2 linked regions of the Homo sapiens genome follow. The protein of the gene in region 2 interacts with the protein of the main gene of each other region in a biochemical or structural test. Each region holds a gene or a part of one and is shown on either strand. Other genes may lie near its edges.

The links. The genes of interacting proteins can lie anywhere in the genome.
Region 1: of the proteins of ASB9 (region 2) and CKMT1B, one has a biochemical effect on the other in vitro, tested with the Homo sapiens proteins (one study listed by BioGRID).

Annotation. Positions count from the first base shown.
Region 1 is NC_000015.10:43,592,334-43,596,082, reverse strand, and holds the start of CKMT1B (creatine kinase U-type, mitochondrial precursor), read right to left. Parts: upstream 2,057-3,749; 5' UTR 1,865-2,056; coding exon 1,716-1,864; intron 1,389-1,715; exon of another isoform or gene 1,205-1,388; coding exon of another isoform or gene 1,112-1,204; coding exon 913-1,111; intron 710-912; coding exon 614-709; intron 228-613; coding exon 6-227; exon of another isoform or gene 5-5; intron 1-4. UniProt on the Homo sapiens protein: Reversibly catalyzes the transfer of phosphate between ATP and various phosphogens (e.g. creatine phosphate).
Region 2 is NC_000023.11:15,249,482-15,253,230, forward strand, and holds part of ASB9 (ankyrin repeat and SOCS box protein 9), read right to left. Parts: intron 2,924-3,749; coding exon 2,773-2,923; intron 1,084-2,772; coding exon 949-1,083; intron 1-948. UniProt on the Homo sapiens protein: Substrate-recognition component of a cullin-5-RING E3 ubiquitin-protein ligase complex (ECS complex, also named CRL5 complex), which mediates the ubiquitination and subsequent proteasomal degradation of target proteins.

The DNA of each region.
Region 1 (3,749 bases), on a different chromosome or scaffold from region 2:
CTCACATCAATAAGCTGCTGCTGTTCAGCCTCTGTCATCTCACTGAGCCTATAGTAACGTCCAGCCAGGTCACCCTTCAGGCCACTCAGTGCATCCACCACAACACGTTCCACCTCTCGTCGCTCTGCTCGAGTGCAAGCTGGAGGCAGACTGAGTCCTCGGATGCTTCGGCCAGTTCTGACTCTAGAGGACAATACATACCTCTCATCAAAGTAGCCAGAACGGATCTGGGAGATAAGGGAAATGAATGTAAGTCACAGAAACACGGTGGGAACTGAGGGCCCCTGGGAAAGGAGAGACCTTCCTTAGGCATTAGAGGACTCTTTGTGCATTCTTCCTGCATGCATTGGAAGAAGAGGCCCTTTGGGAAAGCACTGGAATTGAAGGGGGCATTGCAGACCTTTCCCCAAACCACCCACCTTGGGTCATGGTCATTCTTATCTATCCTTCCATCTCCATATATGCTGCCCCTTAAGATATGATTCTTTCCTTACATTAAGATTAAAAGCTCAGCTGTATAATGACCATGAGTCAGGAAATAAGGTGAAGGGGTTGGAGATACAGAGTGTTGTACACAGGCAATGCAAATCAGAAGTGGGATATTTGAACTCACTTTACTGGCATCTAGATCCGTGGTGTGCTTCATTGTCCGGGGGTCATATCCATTGTGTCGCTCTTGGATCACAGGGTCAAACAGGTCAGCAAATACCTAAGGGGAGTTAAGAGGGAGAGATGGTTAAGGAGAGGGAATCCCTCCCCAGACTTCAATTGTGCATTGATTTCACTGGTTCAGAAAACTTAAGTATGGGGGGCTCAGAGTCTTGGGGGAAAGTGAGAGGTCTTTAGGGGAAAGGAGCTGGGATTACTGGGAAGATGAATTGGATCATCAGGGAGACTCTGGGGACCCCCTACCTCATAGGTCTCCTCATCTCCAGCCACCATGCCCACAGTCTTGATGAAGGGGTGGCCAGGGTTGTCCACGCCAGTCTGGATACACTGATCTAGCGTCCAACCAGTGGGTGTGGTCTTGTCGCAGAGCCGTGCATAGACTGCTGGGGTCAGGTGACTGGCCATGCAGTTGTTGTGCTTTCGGAGGTCTGGGTACTCAGCGCTGGGGAGGGGGTACCCAGTAACCATGGAGGGAGGGCACAGACGCCTAGACCTAGTGCAGTTACCTGGGAGCTGTCCAGTTGGCCATGTCTGGCTTTGCTCCGCGGGAGGAGGGGGAATTAGAAAGAGGGTAAACCTTGGTAATCTCTTTAGGGACTTTCAGAGTCTATGCTTTCCTAATAGTTCTAGTTGCCTCTGGCTGGCCAGCTCAGTTTCTTCAGATCTGCTCAGTTCTTTCCTCCCATGACACAACACTACGGATGGAGGAGGGGAAAAGCCTAAGGAGAGGAATTGAGGAAATGAGGGAAGGAGATGGAGGGGAGCGAAAAGGATAGTTCCTGGCTTTACAATTAGGGATTTGGGCAGCCAGTGCAGCTAGAACTCGTAGGGCCAGAGCTGGTCTTGGCAGGTCCCCAGGAATGTTCTTGCTTTATGGTTTTGGCCCCCACCCCCACCCCACTGAGGTCTGCAGACTGCACAGCCCTCCAGCTCCAGGGCCTTCGTGATTATAGCCCTTCTCTGTTGCCCGGATTCTCACTTCTACCCGCACCTTCGTTCCCATCACCTCCTGCCCCCGCCTCCTCCCGCGCCTCAGGCACTGTTACCTCGGGGGATACAGCCTCCGTCGTTCACTGGCAGCTCGTACAGGTTCCGGTCGGAGCAGAAACCCAGCGGCTAGAGACCCCGCTCCGGCCAAAGCCAGGAGCCTGAGTCCCGGGCGGGCGGACAGCAGACGGGAGAAGGGACCAGCCATGGCTTGAGGTCTGGCTACGGGATCCTGGAGTAGGCGCTGGCGCAAGATAAGATCCGGAACAGGGAGGGAGGATGCAACCGGATAGACCGAGGGCCGGAGCTAGGTCCGAGGCTGCAGCCGAAATGGGGGTCGGATTGGAGGCTGGAGCCGGAATGGGAGCCGGTGCCAATCAGACTGCAGGAGAGGCGCAATGAGCTAGTGGCAGGCGGGCGGGCGGAGGAGAGGGAGGCCCCAGCCGCAGTCTCCAGGGGTGGGGCTCCCCCAGGCCCCGCCTTCCCGCCTGCCACCGCGCTAGGTGCGCGAGGGCAGGGGTGGGCAGCACCCGCCAGGTAATTAGCGGGACCTGAGACTCGCGCGTCTAAAGCCGGGGATGTAGCCCCCTCCCGCCCCGGGGATGTGGCCGCCCAGATTTCAGCACCAAGTGGAGGACAGCACCCACGTGGACTAGCTGAACCCAACACCCTTCCCCCACACCCCTCGGTTTAAGCTGAAACTCGATCCGTCTACCCTGTGGGTGTGCAAGGGTGACACTGCCCAACCTTTCCTCTGCTTTCGGCCTGCCCCAGCCACCTCTTCGGTCTCCCGGGGGCAGCCGCGGGGAAACCGCGGAATAAACACAGATACCAGAGGAGGATATGGAGAAAGCACAGGGTTAGAGGCAGGCACTGGGAAAGACACCCACTGGCTCAAGGTCACCTTTTCCTTAGAACCAGGAAGAGGAGCAAGGTGCTTCCTTGCCACCTCTGTGCACGCCTTACAAAGTTGAGAAAGGACTCCCTGGGAGGAACCAAGGAAATATTAATTCTTATGCCATCTGTGCTGTGTCCTCCACCTCCATTCTGCACCCAAGTCTGAAGCCCTGTTATTTCCTGCCTCTGCTTCTCATGATCCCCCACTTTTTGTTTTCCTTTTGTCTCTCCCACTTTCCTCCACGTCCCCTACCTCACCTTTGATCTTTTACTTCTCTGCGTCTTTTCCAGGCTCAGATGTGTTTGCTGCTCACAGGATGCCCTCTGCGTTTTCTCGGCAAGCTTGCCCACCTGTTGGTGGTGCTGGGTGTGGGGGTGGGCAGGGAATCGTTAGTTTCCTCCTCCTCCTCTCCCTTGGCTTCTCTCTCCGTAGTTCCTAGTTCCTGTGCTGGAGGAGAAGGTAAAGTGAGGTGAAGGGTGTGGTGAGATGACTGGGTGTGGGACTGGAACAGGCAGGCACAGGTCTCCAGACACCACATGTGTTTCCTCTCTTGTCTCCCTAATGCTGTTTAATCCAGAGAGTAAAGGCGAGTGGTGTACAAAGGCATGAGGTCGTCAGGGAATCTCTGCCTTCCTCGTGGTCCCCTCTGCTGCTCTCTCTCTCCTCGTGAAACACATATTCAGATTTGAGAGGGCTTTGTTTCCCAGCTCCAGGTATGATTTGACCTTTGTCCTGGTAGCAAGGAGAATGAATGCTAGAGTTGAAATAGAGATGAGGGGCTTCAGCGTGGAGGGTCAGTTAAGGTGGAGTAGCACCGTGGCATTAGTCCCTTCCCTCTGCTATCCTGGTGTACCCACAAGACAGATACTTGGAAATCTTAACAGAGAGTATTTGGGAAAGAGAATTCCCTTTACATAGAAAATTCCCCCATATTACTCTCATTCCCTTCATTCTCCTTAGGCCTTCCTTGTGTCCTTTTATTCTACCTTTGTCATTTGTGGGTATTCTTAGAAGTGTCCACTTCTCTCTTGGGTCCATCCCTTCTTCTTCTGGTAAGACATCAATTATTAGAGAACAGAGTTATGCAGCTGTAGTGTGGAAAATGTTACCTGTGTTGTGGGGCCTCTTTACCTAGGTTGAAAAGTAGCCATGAGTAAATAAATATAATTTCTTAGAATAGCGTGTATTTATCCAG
Region 2 (3,749 bases):
AGTAAGGTGGATTTCTAGGACTGTCCCCACCCAATTCCACTCTTACACTCTTAACAAATCCCCACCCCAGCCCAGAGCCTAGCTTTCACTGTGACATGTGGGAACATGTGGCTTTGCCTGAGCTGCCATCCCTCTGGTAAAATGAAAATCTATGTCCACTCAACAAATGTTAACTGATCTGGTCTTGTATTGTTCCTGACTTTGTGAGGGATATCAAACATGGCCCTTTCCAGGCTAGAGGCTTAAAATCTGCCCAGAGTGGCAGAGGTGGGGTGGGCAGTGGGGGAGAGACAGAGATTGCATCTCTTAATTCATAGCAATGCCTGCCAGATGAGTAGGAGGCAATAAGGACTGCAACAACATTCATTGGGAAACAGATTACTGAAGCCTTAAAGAATAAATAGGACTCAGATAATTAAAGAGGTGATGAAATGGTGTTCCAGGTGTTGAGAAGGGGGCTGGACAACAGCAGGGAGGTGAAAAGAAATAAGGGTACATAGGCCTTTTCAAGGAAAATATAATATTTGCAATGGGGCAAGTTCAATATCTAATCAAAGAGAACTGGTTAAGGTCCCAAATAGGAAGATTCAACACTAATCCAACAGCTTTGCAAGTTATGCAGGGCTTAATAATGTGACTGGCCAAATGGAGGGAGACAGAGGAAAGGGAGGAGAAACTAATAATCATTGAGGACCACCCTGAGAAGAGGCATCATCATCATCATCATCCTCCTCCTCCTCCTCCTCCTCCTCATCCTTGTTACAAATGAGAGAACTACAGTTCAAACAGTGTGAAATAATTCCCCAAGGGAACACAGTCAATATGAACCCTGACCTTGTCCAACTCCATTGCCCACACTAATTTCTCTCCTACAGCAGTAAGATGTTTAAAATACATTTAATTTACTTTTCGTTTTCTTTTCTTGTTTTGGTTTGCTTTTTGCTTTACCTGACTCCAGAAGCTTCTTGACACAGGCTCTCTGTTGGTTTTCACAAGCCAAATAGAGTGGAGTGCCCAGGTGGCTGATCTTATGGTCAATGTTGCCCCCATAAGCTATAAGAGAGTTGACACACTCCACGTGGCCTGCAGCCCAAAGCAGGAAGAAAAACAGTTACAATACAAGTTCCCTTAGCTAGAAAGACATTGCCATCCCCATTTTGCATTAAATTTGGCAGCAGCTTATCCAGGGGACCAAAAAGCTATTTCCTTCAATTAGAATCAGGAGTGATTTTATTTTATTTCATTTTATTTTATTTTAGAAACGGAGTCTCGCTCTGTCCCCCAGGCTGGAGTGCAGTGGCGCAATCTCGGCTTACTGCAAGCTCCGCCTCCTGGGTTCACGCCATTCTCCTGCCTCAGCCTCCGAGTAGCTGGTACTACAGGCGCCCGCCACCACACCCTGCTAACTTTTTTGTATTTTTAGTAGAGATGGGGTTTCACCGTGTTAGCCAGGATGGTCTCAATCTCCTGACCTCGTGGTCCGCCCGCCTCAGCCTCCCAAAATGCTGGGATTACAGGCGTGAGACCAGGCCCGGCCAAATCAGGAGTGATTTTAACCACTGCTATCAGTTAATGGTTTGACCATAGGATGCAATCTGCAACTACGGGTGAAACTCCATTTGAGTTTACTAGCCACGGTAACCAACCAGCAACTATCCACCTTTTTCAATTGTCTGTGGCTTTGTAGTTTGTCTAAGTACAGAAATTGAAGTGAGAGCTTGGGAGAGATATGGAGGAACAGGACCTGAAGGTGGAACTGAAGAATAAAGGGCACAGTGTGGGCCACGGGACAGGGAAGGAAACTTACAACCTCTCCAAAGGCAGGCCCGGGAGGAACAGGCCACAGCGGGTATAGGCAATGCTTAGAAGAAACTGCCAAATCCAACATGAGCAGGGCCCAATCTGAAAAACTAGGTGAAAGCTGAATCACACTTCCTTGGTCCAGGATGTCATATTTTTGACATTGCTCCTCTACGTTTCTCTTGCTGTATTTTAGTTCTATGTATGCAGCGAATATGATGAGTTAAGATGTTCTCAATAAATAATATTAATGCTTTGGGAGATCATTATGAGTGGGTTGGTCCAGTCAAATGGGAAGCCATTCTATGAAAGCCACTGGAGAAACAGAAAGCCCTCTGGCAAGGTATGGTCATTACGATGATGCTAAATATTGGAGAAAATAAAAACTTGTGATTTTATGAGCTAAGACTATCAGAAAAATTATGGCTTTAATGAAAAGAATTATCCCAAACTGTATGCAACATCAAATACTTTCAAAAATTGAAAGCTTATTTCATTTGGCAAACTTAAGTGTCACTGAGACAATGTTCTTTAAGGCCCTGAAATAGAAGAATATAATTTGTTTTATGAAATAACTTGATTTCTATAAGGTCACGGGTATAACAACGGATTCCACAAATATTGATGGATAGTCTACTATGTGCCAAGCCCTGTTTCAGTAATACAGCAGTGAAAAACATTCAAAATGCTCTAAAAGGGAGGCACTCAAACTTACTGTGTACCAGAAAGCAGCTGGAGGGCTTATTAAACAAAATACAGAGGGCTGAGCCCCATCCCCAGTTACTGATTCAATGGGGCTGGAGTGAGGCCGAAGAATCTGCATTTGCAGGCCAGGTCATGCTGATGCTTCCAGTCCTGGGACTCCATTTTGAGAACTACTGCTCTAAAATATATCTCCTTTTCTTTCTTTCTTTCAGCAGTAAGATGTCCCTTGAAGGAGTGGGTAGAAAAAAAAATTCTCAACAGATTTACCTCTCCTAGCAGCTTCATGGATGGGGGATGCCAGATCACTCTCAGGTTGAACGCTGGCTCCGTGCTGCAGAAGCAAATTCACACAATCCCAGCTGCCGCTGACACAAGCATTAAACAGTGGAGTGTGCCAGTCTGCTGTCACACCATTCACCTGGTAAAAGAAGCTCCAGAATGAAGACAGGAAGGGGGATGTTTTGGGTTCAAATGTGGGGTCCACCACTCTGAAGATGTTATTTAACATCTCTGAGCCTTAAATTCCTCAGCTATAAAATGGAGAAATAACTACGAAATTCCACAGGTTTTTGTGAAAAATGGAATTAGGGAGTGGCTATAAAGCATCGAAAATGTTACTCAATGTTCTATCTCCTCCATGCCCTCCCCAGGAACATGAACTTTGAAACTAGTTAGGATAATTTCAATCGCTTACAAACTAATCCCTATTTTAAACTTCTTTCCTAGACCCATCCCACACCAATTCAATTTCTTAACGGGTGCAAGAAGATTACTCTTGCTGCTGTGAGGAAATTGTTGAAATTATTAGCTGTGTAATTTAGTATATTCTTAAAGTATAATTTAGAAAACTTTAAAAAACTTGACTTTCATACAAATATAGAATTAACACATACCCAAGATTTTATTCAACTCACTCATTAATGAGGGAACCAGTAAGATGGTAAGGCTGGCTCAAAAAAACATTTGGCCAGGCGCAGTGGCTCACGCCTATAATCCCAGCACTTTGGGAGGCCGAGGCAGGCGGATTGCCTGAGCTCAGGAGTTCGAGACCAGCCTGGGCAACATGGTGAAACCCGGTCTCTACTAAGATACAAAAAATTAGCCCAGCATGGTAGCATGCGCCTGTAGTCCCAGCTACTCGGGAGGCTGAGGCAGGAGAATTACTTGAACCCGGGAGGCAGAGGTTGCAGTGAACCGAGATCACGCCACTGCACTCCAGCCTGGGCGACAGAGTGAGACTCTGT